2 separate regions of the Homo sapiens genome follow, and region 2 is linked to region 1. The links come from fine-mapping of genetic effects on gene expression. A gene starts in region 1. The other region holds a variant in brackets. All regions are shown on one strand. Distances are from middle to middle.

Region 1 (8,329 bases):
AACAAAAAACAAAAAAAAAAACAATAACAGAAGAGGCCTGGCACGGTGCCTCATGCCTGTAATCACAGTACTTTGGGAGGCTGAGGTGGGAGGATTGCTTGAGCCCAGGAGTTCGAGACTAGCCTGGGCAACAGTGAAAACCTGTCTCTACTAAAAATCAAAAACATTAGCCAGGCATAGTGGTGCACACCTATGGTCCCAGCAACTCGGGAGGCTGAGGTAAGACGATCGCTTGAGCCCAGGAGTTTGAGGCTGCAGTGAGCTATGACCATACCACTGCACTCCAGCCTGGGCCAACAGAGCAAGGCCTTTTTTAAAAAAAATCAAAAAACAGTGCAAGATCACCCTGACCTCCATTCTGCTTCTTAAAAGCAAATGAAATTCCCAAGTGAAAGACGCCCTCCCCATATCAAATAAAATGATTTTATCATCAAGGACGACAGGAAGTCAAGGCCGACAGAATTTGGTACAGACCTTGTGAAAACAACTCTTTCAAGCATCCCCACATCATGTAGTTGCTTTTTTACAAGTGGCTAGTCTTTGTCCAAGTCAGTATATAAGTGATTTAATTTTGCCACTTTGAGTCTTCATTTCATTATAAGGGAGCCTGTGCTGTATAAAACTTGTGTTAAATTAATATGCCTGGCTGGACACGGTGGCTCACACCTGTAATCCCAGCACTTTGGGAGGCCGAGGTGGTTGGATCACTTGAGGTCAGGAGTTCAAGACCAGCCTGGCCAACATGGTGAAACCCCATCTCCACTAAAAATACAAGATTAGCCAGGCGTGGTGGTGCACACCTGTAGTCGCAGTTACTCGGGAGGCTGAGGCAGGAGAACCACTTGAACCAAGGAGGTGGAGGATGCAGTGAGGCAAGATCGCACCACTGCACTCCAGCCTGGGCAACAGAGCAAGACTCCATCTCAAAAAAAAAAAATCCTATGTTTTTTCTCCCATTAACCCATCTCCCTTTATTTTTTTTTTTTTTTTTTTTTTGAGATAGGGCCTCACTCTGTCACCCATGTTGGAGTGCAGTGGTGCCATCACAGTTCACTGCAGCCTCAACCTCTTGGGCTTAAGTGATCCTCCCACCTCAGCCTCCCAAGTAGCTGGGACCACAGATGCAACACCATACCTGGCTAATTTATTAATTTTTGTACAGATGGTGGTCTCACTATGTTACCCAGGCTGGTCTCGAACTCCTAGCCTCAAGCAATCCTCCTACACCTCAGCCTCCCAAGTTGCTGGGATTACAGGCATGAACCACTGCACCTGACCCTGTTAGTTTAGCTTATGTCAGTTTAATTCTCCCGCCCAGCCTGGGGCCCTAAAAGGGGAGAAATAGAGTTCTTTCTCCCCTACACTGCAGTGCTCAGCTGCACAGGAAGACTGTCCCTCTCCCATCTCCCATGGCCAAGGGGACAGTAAATCCTTGAGTGGCCCTGCTAGGTCTAGAGCCTGTCAGGCACGTGACTGTCAGGGCAGGACACACACCCATCTTGCCAGCAACTGTCCCTGCTGTGCCCACACCAGAACTCCAATGGCTGAAAACCATCCCATCAGCCTTCAACAAACAGCATTCACACTTGCCACTCTTCAGCTGGTTTTCAGCCAACTCCTAACCTTGCAAACAGGAGAGCAGAGCAGGATGCTACTCTGATTTTACTCAGTCATGGATGGCTTCCACCTGGCCCTGGGCCACACAGGGCAGGTGACACCCATAGTCATGAGGGGCCAAGGCTTTTGTTGCTGAGAATGCAAATGACAGCTGGGTGTCTGCTGGCTGGCTGATGCAACACGCTGCAAACTCCTTCCTTTGGATTTAGGTGGCTTCTCTCATCCCAGCATCTAAGCCACAAACCCCCAAAACAGGACAGATTGAAAGCTCCAACCTGCTAAAATCTGTGGGCAAAACAATTCCCTTGGGGTAACACAGGGTTACTGAAAACTTGGAGGTCCCCAAAGCCTTCCAGCCTCACTTGCACTGGGCAGTGTTGACCACTCACAAGGCAAGGAGAAGTTCAGAGCAGCCCCAAGGGCAGTGTGGAGTGCCAGGGGTCTGAGTGGCATCAGGGACCCCATGTGTAACCCGTCACTGTCTGAGGGAGGCCTGCACCTCAGGCCTGTGGATAGCAGGCAAGGGCTTGGCAGCACCAGGAGCACAGAGCCCACCTCAGCCTCAAGCTGGGGTAAAAACGTGGGCCTCAGCCTCGAGATGCAGCCAGTTACCCAAGAGCTGCTGCACCTGTGAAAAGCACTCTGTCTTTCAGGTTAAAAGAAGGAGATAGGAATTTATGAAACGCAGAGAAAATGGCACACAGGTTTTTACTACACGAGGAAAAAGTCACCAAATAGAGTTTAAACGACTAAAGAGCTTTACTGGTGAGTAACCTAAAAGAATCTATGGGATGTCCCCTTGGGATATAATACTGTGGAAGGCACCCAAGGAAAGTAACGCTGCTCTGGTCTGAATGTCTGTGTCCTCCCCAAATCCCCATGCTGAAATCCTCATCCCTCAGGTGATGGCGTTAGGAGGCAGGACCCTTGGGAGGTGATGAGGTTGTGAGGGTGGAACTCTCAAGAACGGAATCAGTGTCCTTACACAAAGGCCCCAGAGACACCCTCACTTCTTCCACCATGTGAGGACACAGTGAGAAGACACCATCTATGAACCAGGAAACGCCCTCACCAGACAGGGAATCTGCCAGTTCCTTCATCTTGGACTTCTAGCCTCTAAAAAATAATGAGCAACTCTCAGATCAGAACAAGAGGACCACAGAAAATTACAGATGTGTTCTAAAAAAGAAAAAAAAAATAGCACTTTGGGAGGCCAAGGCGGGAGAACCGCTTAAGGTCAGGAGTTTGAGACCAGCCTGGGCAACACAGCAAGACCCCCACCTCTAGAAAAGCATTTTAAAATTAACCAGGTGTGGTAGCACGTGCCTATAGTCCCAGAGGCTGAGGTGGGAGGATCGCCTGAGGCCAGTTCGAGCTGCAGTGAGCTACAATCATGCCATTGCACTTCAGCCTGGGTAATGAAGTGAGACTCTGTCTCTTGGGAAAAAAAAAAGAAGTCTGATGCTGCCATCACCTACAGGTAAAATGTGAGGAGAAAAAGAGGCTTCCACTGGCTTTGGCTAGATTCTATTTGAGAAATACAAACACATCCTAAAAAAAATACCCTGAAGCTCACTTAAGTCCAGAGGCCCCTCCTCCAACCAACCAGCTGAGCAGTTCAGAGGCCTGGCCCACTTGGCCTGGTGGTCCCTTTGTCTAGAGCCCTGAGCCCACAGTCCCCTCATTCCAGGCTGCCCCAGGTCCCCCCACTTGCCTTCCACACTGCAGCTGCTGACTCTGCCTGGCCATGCAGGTCCCGGGCGTCATTCAAGTCCTTTCTCATGATTTCCACAGACCCCTTGTTCTCCTGTAAAGAAAAGAAGGTCACCAGGGGTGGGCAGAAGCTCTGGGTCCCCCAACCCAGCCCAGTACTGAGGGACATCACCCCAGCTGACTGCACACAGTCTGACCATCCCAGAGATAACCTCGAAGCCCGGTTGTCTAGGGCAGGAACGCACAGGCAGTCAAAAGGTTTCTTGGGCTTCACACCTATTCAGAAGGATCTGGGTGCTGGGGCTAAGGGGACTGTCTAGGTGGGTTTAGGAGTTCTGTGTCTGTAAGTGGCCCTGTTCAGTGTGAGTTCGGCCTGTACCAAAGGTCTGCACAGCCTGCCCTACACCCTGCCCTGCCTGAGCCGGATGGGGGTCGCTCTGCCCGGTGGCAGGACCCCCAATGCAGGAGGAGCACCCAGGGACACAGTCTGGCTGGCTTCCCCTCCCCTGTATTGAAGAGCAGGACCCCAGGCTGGCTGTTGTCTCCTATTCTGTGTCCCACAACCAACCCGCCATGGGCAAGGCTCCAGACTCCCGGACCCGCTGCTGCCAGACTCTCAGAGCGGGTTTCTGAAAGATGGGAGAGGGGACAGGGGGTGCAGGCGAGGGCTGGGTGGCCCGGGGAGCAGACGAGAAGGTGGGCCAGGCCTGTGGACACAGTGGAATACAGAGGGGCAAGAGGCGTGATGTCTCCCCCAAGGGAAGAGTGAGTGGAGGAGTCAATCTGTAGGAACTAGAGGGGGTCTATGAGGGCGAGACAGGGCACAGCTAGTGATGGGACCACAAAGATGGGCGCTGGTGGGGGAAGGACTTCGTAGAAGGTAGGGGGTGGGGAGATAAGGCACCGCCCAGCAGGGGACACCAAGACGGGGAAGGGGACCAGACTCCGAAGAGACGCAGGAAATATGGGGAGGCAAGCCGCAGGAGGGAGGGGCCCAGCACACGCTGGAGAGGGGACCCGTGGCGGTGAGGGGAGGGGGACAATCCGGGGACGGGGACAATCCGGGGACAGGAACAGTGGAGACGGGAAGGGCCCAGGGCTCAGGGGGACCGGGGCGGGGGCGGAGAGGCGCAGGGCACCGTCCGGGGTGGGGCACGGGACCCCGCGGCGCGCACCTTGCCGCGCAGCGCCTTCCTCCAGCGCGGTTCCCACTCGGGCGGCTCGGGGCCCGCAGCCATACGGCAGGCGGCGCAGAGCGGGCCGGCGTCGGCGCGGCACAGCAGCTGCAGCGCGGCCTCGCTGGCCGGGCCGTCGCGCGCGGGCGCCGCGGCCGCCTCCTCGAGCGCCAGAAGGCGGCGGCTGAGCGGGGGCCTGCCGGGCTCCACGGCGCGCTGCCAGCAGTCGTCGGCGCACTCGGGGCACGGGAAGGGCCCGTCCTCCTCGGCCCAGAAGCGCACCACGCACGCCCGACAGAAGCGGTGGCCGCAGTCGGCGCGCACCGGTTCCCGGGGCGCGCGCTGGCACAGGGCGCAGGCGGCCTCGGCGGGGCCCGCAGGGAGCGCCAGGGCTGCGGGCGGCGGGGCCGGCAAGGGCGCAGGAGCGGCTGGGGAGGGCCGGAGACCTAGACGGCCGGCGACCGGACGGAGACCAGCAACAGGACGAAGACGCCAACGCCGGGGACGCGCACGGGGCGGGGTCGGGGACGCGCACGGGGCGGGGTCCGGACCGCGGAGCGCTCTGCCGATAAGATCCTGGCAGCGGTGTGCTGCAGCCGGAGGTCCTGGCCGCGCTGCGCTCCACAGACAAGATCCTGGCAGCAGTGTACTGCATCCTTAGGTCCTGGCCGCGGTGGGCTTCTCCGCCTGGATCCTAGCGGCGGTGCGCTCCTCCGCCTTGATTTTGGCAACTATGCTCTCCACCTGCAAGGTCCTGGCAGCGGCGCACGTCACCGCGCAAGTCCTGGCAGCTGCGCGCTTCACTCTACTGCCTGCGGACCGGCCCAAGTCGTATCCTGAAATCTTACTGGGCTGTCCCTTCCTACTTCAGTAACTCCTGCGAAAGAGGGAAACAAAGTTTTATTTTTACTTGAAGGTTCCATTTTTAAAAGGTTGTTTTTGTAAGCTGCTAGGATCTGAGCTGCGCGTACCCCCGCGGTAGCTCGCCCGCGTGGGCTGGGGACGGGGCGGGAAATGGCCTGCGTGGGCCTCCTCCGCTGCTCTCATCCTGCACGGACCCGCCCTGCATGGGCACGCCCTGCGTGCACGGGCCTGCCCGCGTGGACGTGCCCTGCGTGCACCCTTCCTTCAGGGACCCGCCCTTGAACGGCCCTCCGGACGTGGACACTCGTATACGCCCACCCTGCGTGGGATCTCCCTGCGTGGACCCATCCCGCTGAGCCTCTTCTCGCGCAGCCTCCCTCTGGCCCCCTGGGAAGCTACCCTGGTTGTCCGCTGTCTCCTGGCTGGGGGGAGCTCTCATTGATTCTGTGATGATGCATGACAGAAGAGCATTTGTTAGCTTTGCTTTGCTTTTCTTTCTTTTTTGAGACAGCCTCGCTCTGTTGCCAGGCAGGCTTGAGTGCAGTGGCGCGATCTCGGCTCACTGCAACCTCCGCGTCCCGGGTTCAAGCGATTCTCCTGCCTCAGCCCCCCGAGTAGCCGGTATTGCAGGCGCCTGCCACGACGCCCGGCTAATTTTTGTATTTTTAGTACAGACGGGGTTTCACCATGTTGGCCAGGCTGGCCTCGAACTCCTGACCTCGTAATCCACCCGCCTCTGCCTCCCAAAGTGCTGGGATTACAGGCGTGAGCCACTACACCCGGCCGTTAGCTTTTCTTTAAAAAATAAATTTAAAGGAAAGAAATAAGCCTTTGGGAAGAGCAATCTTGTGTTTTTGTTTTTTAATTATTTTGAAAACAAGCAAGCATGGTTAAAATAAGATTGTGCAAGTTTTGCATTTTAAAAAATTAATCTGGGCCGGGCGCCGTGGCTCACGTCTCTAATCCCAGCACTTTGCGAGGCCGAGGCGAGCGGATCACAAGGTCAAGATATGAGACCATCCTGGCTCATGGTGAAACCCCGTCTCTACTAAAAATACACAAATTAGCCGGGCGTGGTGGCGCATGCCTGTAATCCCAGCTACTCAGGAGGCTGAGGCAGGAGAATCACTTGAACCAGGGAGTCGGAGGTTGCGGTGAGCCAAGATCGTGCCACTGCACTCTAGCCTGGCGACAGAGCGAGACTCTGTCTTAAAAAACAAAAACAAAAAAAAATTTTTATAAATCTGTATTCCAAGCAAGCGCAGGATCTAATGAGGTATTTTTGTCTTTGTGAAGATTTTTTAAATCGACTTGGAAATGCACTAGATGCCCGTGGGAAACATGAATAGTAAACCGAGGTTATTTCTGTGTAGTAAAGATTAGAGGCTTCCAGCCGAGCCTTGCTGATATTGTTGAGTCAACTAGGAACTTGCTGGAGAGAAAAGTAAAAAATATAAAAAATGAGCAAACTTCATAATGAACTAATCTTGTGAATGAGAAAATATCAAAAATTATAATTAAAGGCAAATAGCCAAATTAGGAACATTGTAACCACAAATATACAAAGAGTTTATAAAATTAGGTAAGGAAAAGCATGATGGAAAATACACCTTGTCATGGGATTTTTCAAATCACAAAAAAAAAAGCACACAAATGATTGAACACACATGAGAAAAAAATGTACACTCTGCCCAGTTAAGAAAGAGGAAAATAAAACGAGACTCTCTTTCTTTCCACTATTAAGTAAGCAGACCAAACAAAAAAAAGGAAACTTGGCCGGGAGCCGTGGCTCAGGCCTGTAAACACAGCACTTTGGGAGGCCGAGGCGGGTGAATCATCTGAGGTCAGGAGTTCAAGACCAGCCTGGCCAACATAGTGAAACCCTATCTCTACTAAAAATACAAAAATTAGGCTGGATGTGGTGGCACACGCCTGTAATCCCAGCACTTTGGGAGGCTGAGGCAGGTGGATCACAAGATCAAGAGATCGAGACCATCCTGGCCAACATGGTGAAACCCCGTCTCTACTAAAAATACAAAAATTAGTTGGGCATGGTGGTGCACGCCTGTGGTCCCAGCTACTTGAGAGGCTGAGGCAGGAGAATAGCTGGAACCGGGAGACGAAGGTTGCAGTGAGCCGAGATCATGCCACTACACTCCAACCTGGCGACAGAGCAAGACTCCCTCAGTTTCAAAAAAAAAAAAAAAATACAAAAATTAGCCAGGCATGGTGGCACGTGCCTGTAATCCCAGCTATTTGGGTGGCTGAGGCAGGAGAATCGCTTGAACCTGGGCGGTGGAGGTTGCAGTGAGCCGAGATCACACCACTGCACTCCAGCCTGGGCAACAGAGTGAAACTCCATTTCAAAAAAACAAAAAACAGAAAACAAACAAACAAAAAAAACACTTGATTCTGTGAATACTGCTTCTTGTAATCCACGTAGCAGTATCGATTAAGGATTTTCTGATTGGAATTCCTTTTCTTAGAAAACAAACTATAAAAATAACAGGAAATGAAAATAATAAAAATTGGGTTGTAAAAAATTGGGCTGTTTTGTTTTGTTTAGAAATGTGGCTGGGAGAGGTGGCTCATGCCTGTTAATCCCAGCACTTTGGGAGGCTGAGGTGAGTGGATAGCTTGAGCCCAGTAGTTCAACACCAGCCTGGGGAACATGGCAAGAACCTGTCTGTACAGAAAATTTTTAAAATTTAGCTGGGCGTGGTGGCACGCACCTGTGGACCCAACTACTTGGGAGGCTGAGGTGGGAGGATCACCCGAGCACAGGAGATTGAGCCTGTAGTGAGCCGTGATCATGCCACTGCACTCCAGCCTGGGAAATGAGAGAATTTTTTAAGACCTTGTCTTAAAAAAAAGAAAGAGAGAGAGAGAGAGAGAGAGAGGTGGGGGCGGGGGGTGGGGGAGAGAAGGAAGGAGTGGAGGGAGAGAGGAAGGAAGGAAGA
Region 2 (8,329 bases), 25 kb before region 1:
GAGCGTAAAAAGACAACCACAAAGCAGATCATGATAATGAAGAAGAAGCAGAAAAGGAGGAGGAAAAGGAAGGGAAAATGAGAGAGAAAAAGGAGAAATACAAGAATAATGTAAGAAAAATGTGGGAGGAGGAGGGTAGGAGAAGCAGGATGGAGAGTAGCAAGAAGATGAGAATGTGGAGAAGAAGAAAAGGAGAAGGAGGCATTAGAGAAAGAAGGATATCAACTCCTGATATCAACAAAATGAACTTTTGTTCATTTGATTCACTAATGCATTCCAAAGGACCTGAATGCCTGACACAGACTTTTATGAATAAATAATCTGCGTCAAATCTGTGTACAAAATGACCCTACTTCATTTACTTCATTTAATTTAGTTCTTCTTCTTCCCTTGCTGTATCCCATCTCACTTTTTCTTTTTCTTTTATCTTTCTCTTCTGCTGAACCTTCCGTCTCATCCTGAAGGCCCCAGCATCCTTGCGTGCCCCTTCTGAGTCCTGTCTCCTCAAGAGTGGCCAGCCTGTGGCTTTTAGTCTTCATTGCACCCACCTGGTAGTCATTCAACTAACACTATCTCCAGAGTCTAAGACACAAAGGCAATCCTTAAATGTCCATGCTGGAGGGGCTGCTTGGCGGATCTGCTTGTTAGGGGGCTCTTCCAGCTACATTTACAGAGCACTTTACATAATATTGAGAAAAAATACATGGTTTGCATTAAAGAGTGGGAGGCCTTAGGAAAACAGAAGCGGGGTATGCTTGCTGCAAGGTACCACTTGGGCCTGGACTAGACACTGTGTAGACAGAAATTGCAAAGCCTCAGGGAGCAAATTTACCATCCAAGAGTGAGGTGAGACATATCATCCATGACTTGGGTAAATATCGTTTTAAATGCTTAGAGGATCCGGAATCCCTATGCACACAGTCCCAGGGGTTGTGGAAAGTAGAAAGTTTGTGCAGGGAATAGGGAGAAGAAGGAGAGATTAGGAAGAGTGTCATTTGTCCTCCAAGACTGCCCCTATGGGTTTGGTCCCATTTATAGGACAGAGAGAGGGTCTACAGGGAAAACACCAGTTGAGCTGTTTTCAGAGGCGCTTTGAGAAAAGAGGACACAAACTGGCCTGCTCAGGGCCCAGAGAGCAAAGCTGGCTCCCAGGCCCAGAACAGATGGAGGGGGAGGGAAATACAAGAGGACTCCTTCCGACAGAAAATCTCTCTGGCTTCTAGGGGATCTTAGGAGAAACTGGGCTTCTGCACAGCAAAAGCAGCCATCAATGGAGTAAACAGACAACCTGCAGAACAGGAGAAAATATTCACAAACTCAAATACTCATGAAATACTCACAAACTATCAGCAAAGGGCTAAGATCCAGAATCTATAAGGAACCTAAACAATTCAACAAGCTAAAAACAACTCCATTTAAAAATGGGCAAAGGACTTGAACAGACACGTCTCAAAAGAAGACATATATGCAGCCAACAAACGTGAAAAAATGCTCAACATCACTAATCATCAGAAATGCAGATCAAAATCACAATGAGACACTATCTCACACCAGTCAGAATGGCTATTACTAAAAAGTGAAAAAATTAACAGATGTTGGCAAATTTGTACAGAAAAAGGCAACATTTATACACCATGTGGGAGTGTATTAGTTAAGCTACCATGGAAAGCAATTCAGAGGTTTCTGAAAGAACTAAAAGTAGAACTGTCATTTGACCCAGCAATGCCATTATTGGGTACATAACCAAAGGAAAAGAAATCATTCTACCAAAAAGACACATGCACTCATATGTTTATTGCAGCACAATTCACAATAGCAAAGAAATGGAATCAACCTAGGTGCCTGTCATTGGGGGACTGGATACAGAAAATGTGGTACATATACACCATGTGTATATGTACATACAGAAATGTGGTACATATACACAACACAGCCATAAAAAAGTGACATTATGTCCTTTGCAGCAACATGGATGCAGCTGGAGACAATTATCCTAAGTGAATTAATACAGGAACAGAAAACCAAATGCTACATGTTCTCACTTATAAGTGGGAACTAAACGTTGGGCACGCATGGACATAAGGATGAGAACAAGAGACCCTGGGGACTACTGGAGCAGAGAGAAAGGGAGAGGGAGAGGGTTGAAAAACTAACTTATTGGGTACTATGCTCACTACCTGAGTGATAGGATCACTCAGATCCCAAACCTCAGTGGTGTCATGCAATAAATCCATGTAACAAACCTGCACATGTACCCCTGAATTTAAAATAAAAGTTGAGGAAAAGAAGAAAAAGAAAACTGGGAAGAGGGACTGGTGCACTGACATCCATTCCTGCAGAGGGCACCAAAGGCCAGACAATCCCATTTTTAACAAAGTTGAGATTTGGGGGTTTTCTTGTTTTTTAACCATAATCCCATCCACAAGAGGGTGGATATGCAGCTCTTTTTTTTGTTATTTGTTTGTTTTCTCTCTCTCTCCTCTCTCTCACTCTGTTGTTTTTGTTCTTTTTTTCTGCTTTTTCTTTTTTTAATGTTTTTCTTTTTTATCAATTGAGATAAAATTTACATAATATAAAATTGACCATTTTAAAGCATACCATTTGGTGGCATTAAGTACATTCCCAATGTTTTGCAACCACCACCTCTATCTAATTCCAAAATATTTTCATCACCCTAAATAAAACCCCCAAAATATTAAACAGTTATTCCTCATCTCCATTTCCACCTCCCCCATCTCCTCAGCCCCAACAACCACAGTTTTCTTTCTGTCCCTGTATTTACCTGTCTGATCATTTCATATGAATGGAATTGTGCAGTGTGTGACCTCCTGTCTTCTTCTTGCCTTTGAACTTTAAACATTGTACCTGAGGTGGGTTGAGCTGAATGTGTCTGCAGGAGCCCCGACTGCCCACATGAGAGACTCTGGGCCACACATGGGCTCATGCACAGAAGGACCACCGTGTCAGGTGACCTACCCATGGGCTGAAAGCCCACACCGCCAGGACACCTTTCTCTGCCATAGCTTCTCCCAGTGCTTGTGACACTCTTCATCCGACAACAGGCATCACAATCTGCTCTCAACACAGTGTGCTCTGTACATCGTAGCGGCTCACTCTAGATTGTTCAAACCTGAGTCCTTCTTCCCAAGTCATCAGGACAAGTGTGACTGGATGCAGCACAGTGGCTCATGCCAGTAACCACGGTACTTTGATAAGCCGAAGTGGGAGGA[T/C]TGCTTAAGCCCAGGAGTTCAAGACAAGCCTGGGCAACATAGCACGACTTTATCTCTACAAAAAATACCAAAAATTTAGCCAGGCATGATGGTGCACCTGTGGTCCCAGCTACTTGGGAGGCTGAGATGGGAGGATTGCTTGAGTCTGGGAGATCAAGGATGCAGTGAGCTGAGATCACACCACTGTACTCCAGCCTGGGTGACAGAGTGAGACCCTGTCTTTAACAACATATTAATTAATGTTTTTTTGAGGCAGAGTCTCACTCTGTCACCCAGGCTGGAGTGCAGTAGCACGATCTTGGCTCACTGCAACCTCCACCTCCCTGGTTCAAGCAATTCCCCTGCCTCAGCCTCCCAAGTAGCTGGGATTACAGGCACAGGCCACCATGCTGGGCTAATTTTTTTGTATTTTTAGTACAGATGGGTTTCCACCACGTTGGCCAGACTGGTCTTGAACTCCTGACCTCAGGCAATCTGCCTGCCTCAGCCTACCAAAGTACTGGGATTACAGGTGTGAGCCACCGCGTCTGGTCAATTATTTTTTTAAAAAGGACAAGTGAGTCGAGTTTTAGGTCACGTCATTGTCTGGTAAAAGCAGATCACAGGACGACATAATTCTTACGTGTTGACATATAAAAGGGGGAACAACCGGTTGACCAAAGAGACGCTCCCCCAAGGAGGGACATAGGAGGGACCTGGCACTTGGATTTCCTCACCGCCCGCAGGCACAGGGAGTGCTCAGCCCGTCTGCAGAGTTTGGATAAAGCTCCTCCCTCTAGGAAAGCAAGGACTCCTTTCTCACAAAAACCACCCAGGAAAAGGCCCAGACTTTTGAATCATCAAACAAGAAGGTGAGGAGGGAATAGGCCTTGCGGCTGGGTGCGAGAAATCAGCATGAAGGTTCTAAGCTGGGCCAGGGATGCTACCAGTGAGAACAGACACCCATGACCCCACAGCCACGGAGGGCAGCGAAGGGCTGGGGAAGAGGAGCCCTGAACGTCCCTCTGGGACAATACAGGAATTAGGACATTGCGACATGATCATAAACACCTTTCCTGAAGGACCTGGGCCAGCTAGGCTGGGCCTGCACGCTGCCAGATAACCACAGGCTTTATCTGCATTTGCAGCTCCTTCAGCTGGCCTGGGTCCCACCCTGAGACCCGTCTCCTCCCGGCGGGCTCTATCTCCTGCTCCCCAGCCCTGGGGTGTTCCACACTGGGGATCACACTCTTCAGGAAGCCTTTTTTTTTTTTTCTGCTGCAACTGCCAGAAAGGTACAGTTACATATTTTTGCAAAAAACAAAAGGAAGAATCTCTGGAAACTGGGGGACTTGGCGGCTTTTGCCAGATGTCTAGGTTGCCTTTCACATCACTGCTTGGAGACAGCGTGGTTGGTCTGGGTCACACCCTACCTGGAGTTGGCAGGAAACTAAATTCATTCCCCCAAAGTTGCCAGGACTTCCCAGGGAAGCTGCAGCAGCTCTCGGTGCCAGGTGAGCATTGTCTATGGTCAGGATGTGGTTTGCTCTTCAGTGTCTCTGCTTCCTCCACCCTCTCCCCATCCCCAAGGGCAGAAGGACCACAGGGCCTTCCTGCAATGCAAGAACCAAACAGGACAAGAGCCTGTGCCCACACAACTCCCTAATCACACACGTAAATGCCCAACCTGGATGGCTGTGCTGGGTAGAACCGCCCAAGGTCACAGAACTTTTTACCAACACCTGCTCTCTAAACCAAGGTTACAAGAAATGCTCACAAGAGACTCATGAGGGTCTTGGCCTGCCCATCCCAGCTGAAGAGCTCTGAGGATTGGGCCCAGCCCCCAGCCCCTGACTGTAGAAGTCCCCATGGGGACAGCAGGAAAGCAAGGGACATTAAGGGAATCCCTTGATGTCGTTCTGACCTCGAATTTGCTTAATCCGAGTCTGGGTTTTCTCCCCCAGCATTCTGGAGTTTCATGACAGTCACCAGCTAGAGACTGGGCTACAGCTCTTTATGAGCAATTAGAAAATCAAACCCCTTCCCTCCTGGATGTCCTCGTGGAATTCCGCAGACAGACTAGGGTGAGAGGTGTGTTACCCGCAAGGAGATGGGTACAGGAGCACATGAGGCTTGCTGTGTCTCCATTTATAGCATTAATAACTTGTTTGAGAGTGAGAGTAAATGACCTTTTTCTTCTTTTTCTTCCATGGCACTTTTCCTCTGCACCTGTTAGCTTCCTGGCGGTGGCTCCTCTCCCAGTGACAGTGCGTGGCTCCGGCCTGGCAGGAATGGCAGTGACATGCGATCCAGAGGCCTTCCTGTCCATCTGCTTTGTCACCTTGGTCTTCCTGCAGCTCCCACTGGCCAGCATCTGTCAAAACTGAGGGACAGACTCCTGTGCAAGTCGAGGCAGGTGCCCTGGCATAGGTGGGGGTGTGTCCAGCATGGCGGGAAGCTGAAGCATCTCCCAGCAGCTCAGGGCTCAATAGGTCCCCAAAGCTTCCAAGAAGAGGGAGGGGCAGGGGGGAAGTGCCCTGGCCTCCCAACACATGGCCTAACCCAGCCCTTTCTGATCTGCCTCCCCCAGGGAAAGCTGACTTTGATGTCACTGGGCCTCATGCCCCTATTCTGGCTATGGCTGGGGGACACGTGGAGTTACAGTGCCAGCTGTTCCCCAATATCAGTGCCGAGGACATGGAGCTGAGGTGGTACAGGTGCCAGCCCTCCCTAGCTGTGCACATGCATGAGAGAGGGATGGACATGGATGGAGAGCAAAAGTGGCAGTACAGAGGAAGGACCACCTTCATGAGTGACCACGTGGCCAGGGGCAAGGCCATGGTGAGGAGTCACAGGGTCACCACCTTTGACAACAGGACATACTGCTGCCGCTTCAAGGATGGTGTAAAGTTCGGCGAGGCCACTGTGCAGGTGCAGGTGGCAGGTAAGGCTGGTGGCTAGCTGGCTGTCAGTCTACTTCCAGGCATGGCCTTGGGGCCCAGCGTGTTCAGGTGGAGGGCTTTTCAGTAGGGTGAGAGTGCACTCTCCCAGCTGCCGTGCTGGCCTGCACTGCTCCCGGGAAGCACAGCGGTGAAGGCAGAGCCACCTTCCTCATCTTCCTTTCCCTCCTTACACCAGTGGACTGGAAAGTGAAGGGAAGGGAAAGAGAGAGATGGGGGGAATGAGAGAGACACAGAGAAGAAGAGATAGAATGAGAAAGAAGCAGGGAGAGACAGACAGAGGTGGAAAGAGAGATGGAGAGAAAGACAGAGAGATGAGAGAAAGACAGAGAGAGATGAAGAAAGAATGACAGAATTATAGAGATGGGGAAAGAGAGAGATGGAGAGGGAGGGACAGGCAGAGACAGAGAATGAAAGACAGGAGAGACAGAGATGGAGAGAGACAGAGAGAATGAGAAACTGAGAGAAACACAGAGAGAATGAAAGAGACAAAGAGACAGAGTCAGTGACAGAGAGAGGGAGATAGAGACAGAGACAGAGAGACAGTAAAAGAAAATGAGAAAGACAGTAAGCAACAGAGAGTGGGAGGAAGAGAGAGACAGAGAAATAATGACAGGAGACAGAAAGGCCAAGAGAGAGAAGAGAGTCTTCAGATACGGGAGGTTTCCCGAGTGACTCAGAACTTGTGCTTCGAAACAGACAAGCCTGGGTCCCATCTTGTGCCATGAATTCTACTTCTGCAACACAGGATGCCTATTCAATCTTCCTGGACCTTTTCCACTTTGCTTCCCTTCTTTTGTCTGGGAAATGGGGAACTCTGTTAGGGATGGTGTGTAACACAGGGTAGGCAGTTTGTGAAATTGCCAAAATACATTGGAAATCCTCAAGATTTTGTTTTTCCTTTAAATAGAAGCAGCCATGGCTGCAAAGATTCAAGCTGCTGTCTCTTCCTTCAGGGCTGGGCAGAGAGCCCAGAATCCAGGTGACAGACCAGCAGGATGGAGTCAGGGCGGAGTGCACATCAGCAGGCTGTTTCCCCAAGTCCTGGGTGGAACGGAGAGACTTCAGGGGCCAGGCTAGGCCTGCTGTGACCAATCTATCAGCCTCAGCCACCACCAGGCTCTGGGCTGTGGCATCCAGCTTGACGCTCTGGGACAGGGCTGTGGAGGGTCTCTCCTGCTCCATCTCCAGCCCCCTCCTCCCTGAAAGGAGGAAGGTGGCTGAGAGCCACCTGCCCGGTGAGTCCTCTATTCAGTTCTGTCCTCACAATCACTGAGCACAGGATTCCGTGGCCCTGGACACTGGGGACATTAAGAGACAGCTGTGGGGTTTGTGGCAAGCAGGGATGGGTGGCAGGTCCCTGTCCTCACATGGCTGGGGCATCCCAGGAGGTGCACTGTTTGGGTGCTGATTACTGAAGAGGAACAGAGATAAGGGTGCAGGGACCCTGGGGAGAGCCTTGCCTTTGGGGGAACAAGAAATGTACATCCTAATATCAACAGTTTTTAGGGTTTTTTAAAATAGGCTTTATTTTTTAAAGCAGTTTTAGGGTCACAACAAATTTTAGTAGAAAGTCCAGAGAGTTCCCATCTTCCCCTAACCCCCTCACACACCTTCCCCCAGCATAAAAACCCTACACCAGAAGGAACGTCCACCATGTTTGATGAACTTCCGTTGACAATGCCGTCAGCACCCAGAGTGCAGTTTTCATGAGGGCTCACTCTTGGCATGGTGTCCCATGGTTCTAGATAAATATATAATGCCACATATCTGTCATAGTATCATACAAAATAATGTCACTGCCCTTAATCCTCCGTGCTCCGCTCATTCATTCATCTCCCCTAACTCCTGGCCACCACTGATGTTTTCACTGTCTCCATAGTTTCCAGGTGTTCTGGAATGTCCTGTAGTTGGGACGGTGCCTCTGTAGCCCCTTCACTTTGACTTCCCTCACTTTGTGGTACGCATTTAGGTTTCCTCCATGTCTTTTCCTGCCTTGATAACTTGTTTCTTTTGTGAAATGAATAACGTTCCAGGATCTGGATGGACCACTGTTTATTGATCCATTCACCTACTAAAAAATATCTTGGTTGTTTCCAAATTTAGCTTTTCACAAAAACTTTCACTTTTACTTTTCTAAATGATGTCAAACTTACAGAA

The links. PIP is the estimated chance that this variant, and not a neighbour inherited with it, causes the effect.
Region 2: its variant is fine-mapped to the expression of RNF187 in NK cells (Schmiedel 2018, PIP 0.95).

What each region holds. Positions count from the first base shown.
Region 1 is chr1:228,484,055-228,492,383 of GRCh38, reverse strand. It overlaps RNF187 (ring finger protein 187), which reads right to left and starts at 5,002. Exons shown (of 4, transcript NM_001010858.3): 1 at 4,506-5,002; 2 at 3,332-3,424. The coding sequence starts at 4,895. RefSeq lists enhancers at 1,582-1,876, 2,828-3,555, 3,556-4,284, 4,402-5,262, 5,564-5,943 and 1 more and silencers at 4,364-4,563, 4,824-4,943.
Region 2 is chr1:228,509,475-228,517,803 of GRCh38, reverse strand. It overlaps LOC105373124 (a long non-coding RNA gene), which reads right to left. Exons shown (of 3, transcript XR_949233.3): 3 at 7,672-7,913. It also overlaps the pseudogene BTNL10P. Among named protein-coding and RNA genes, the nearest start is that of RNF187, 26 kb to the right of the region's middle. RefSeq lists an enhancer at 6,165-6,666. The variant T/C (reference allele first, on the strand shown) is at 3,231.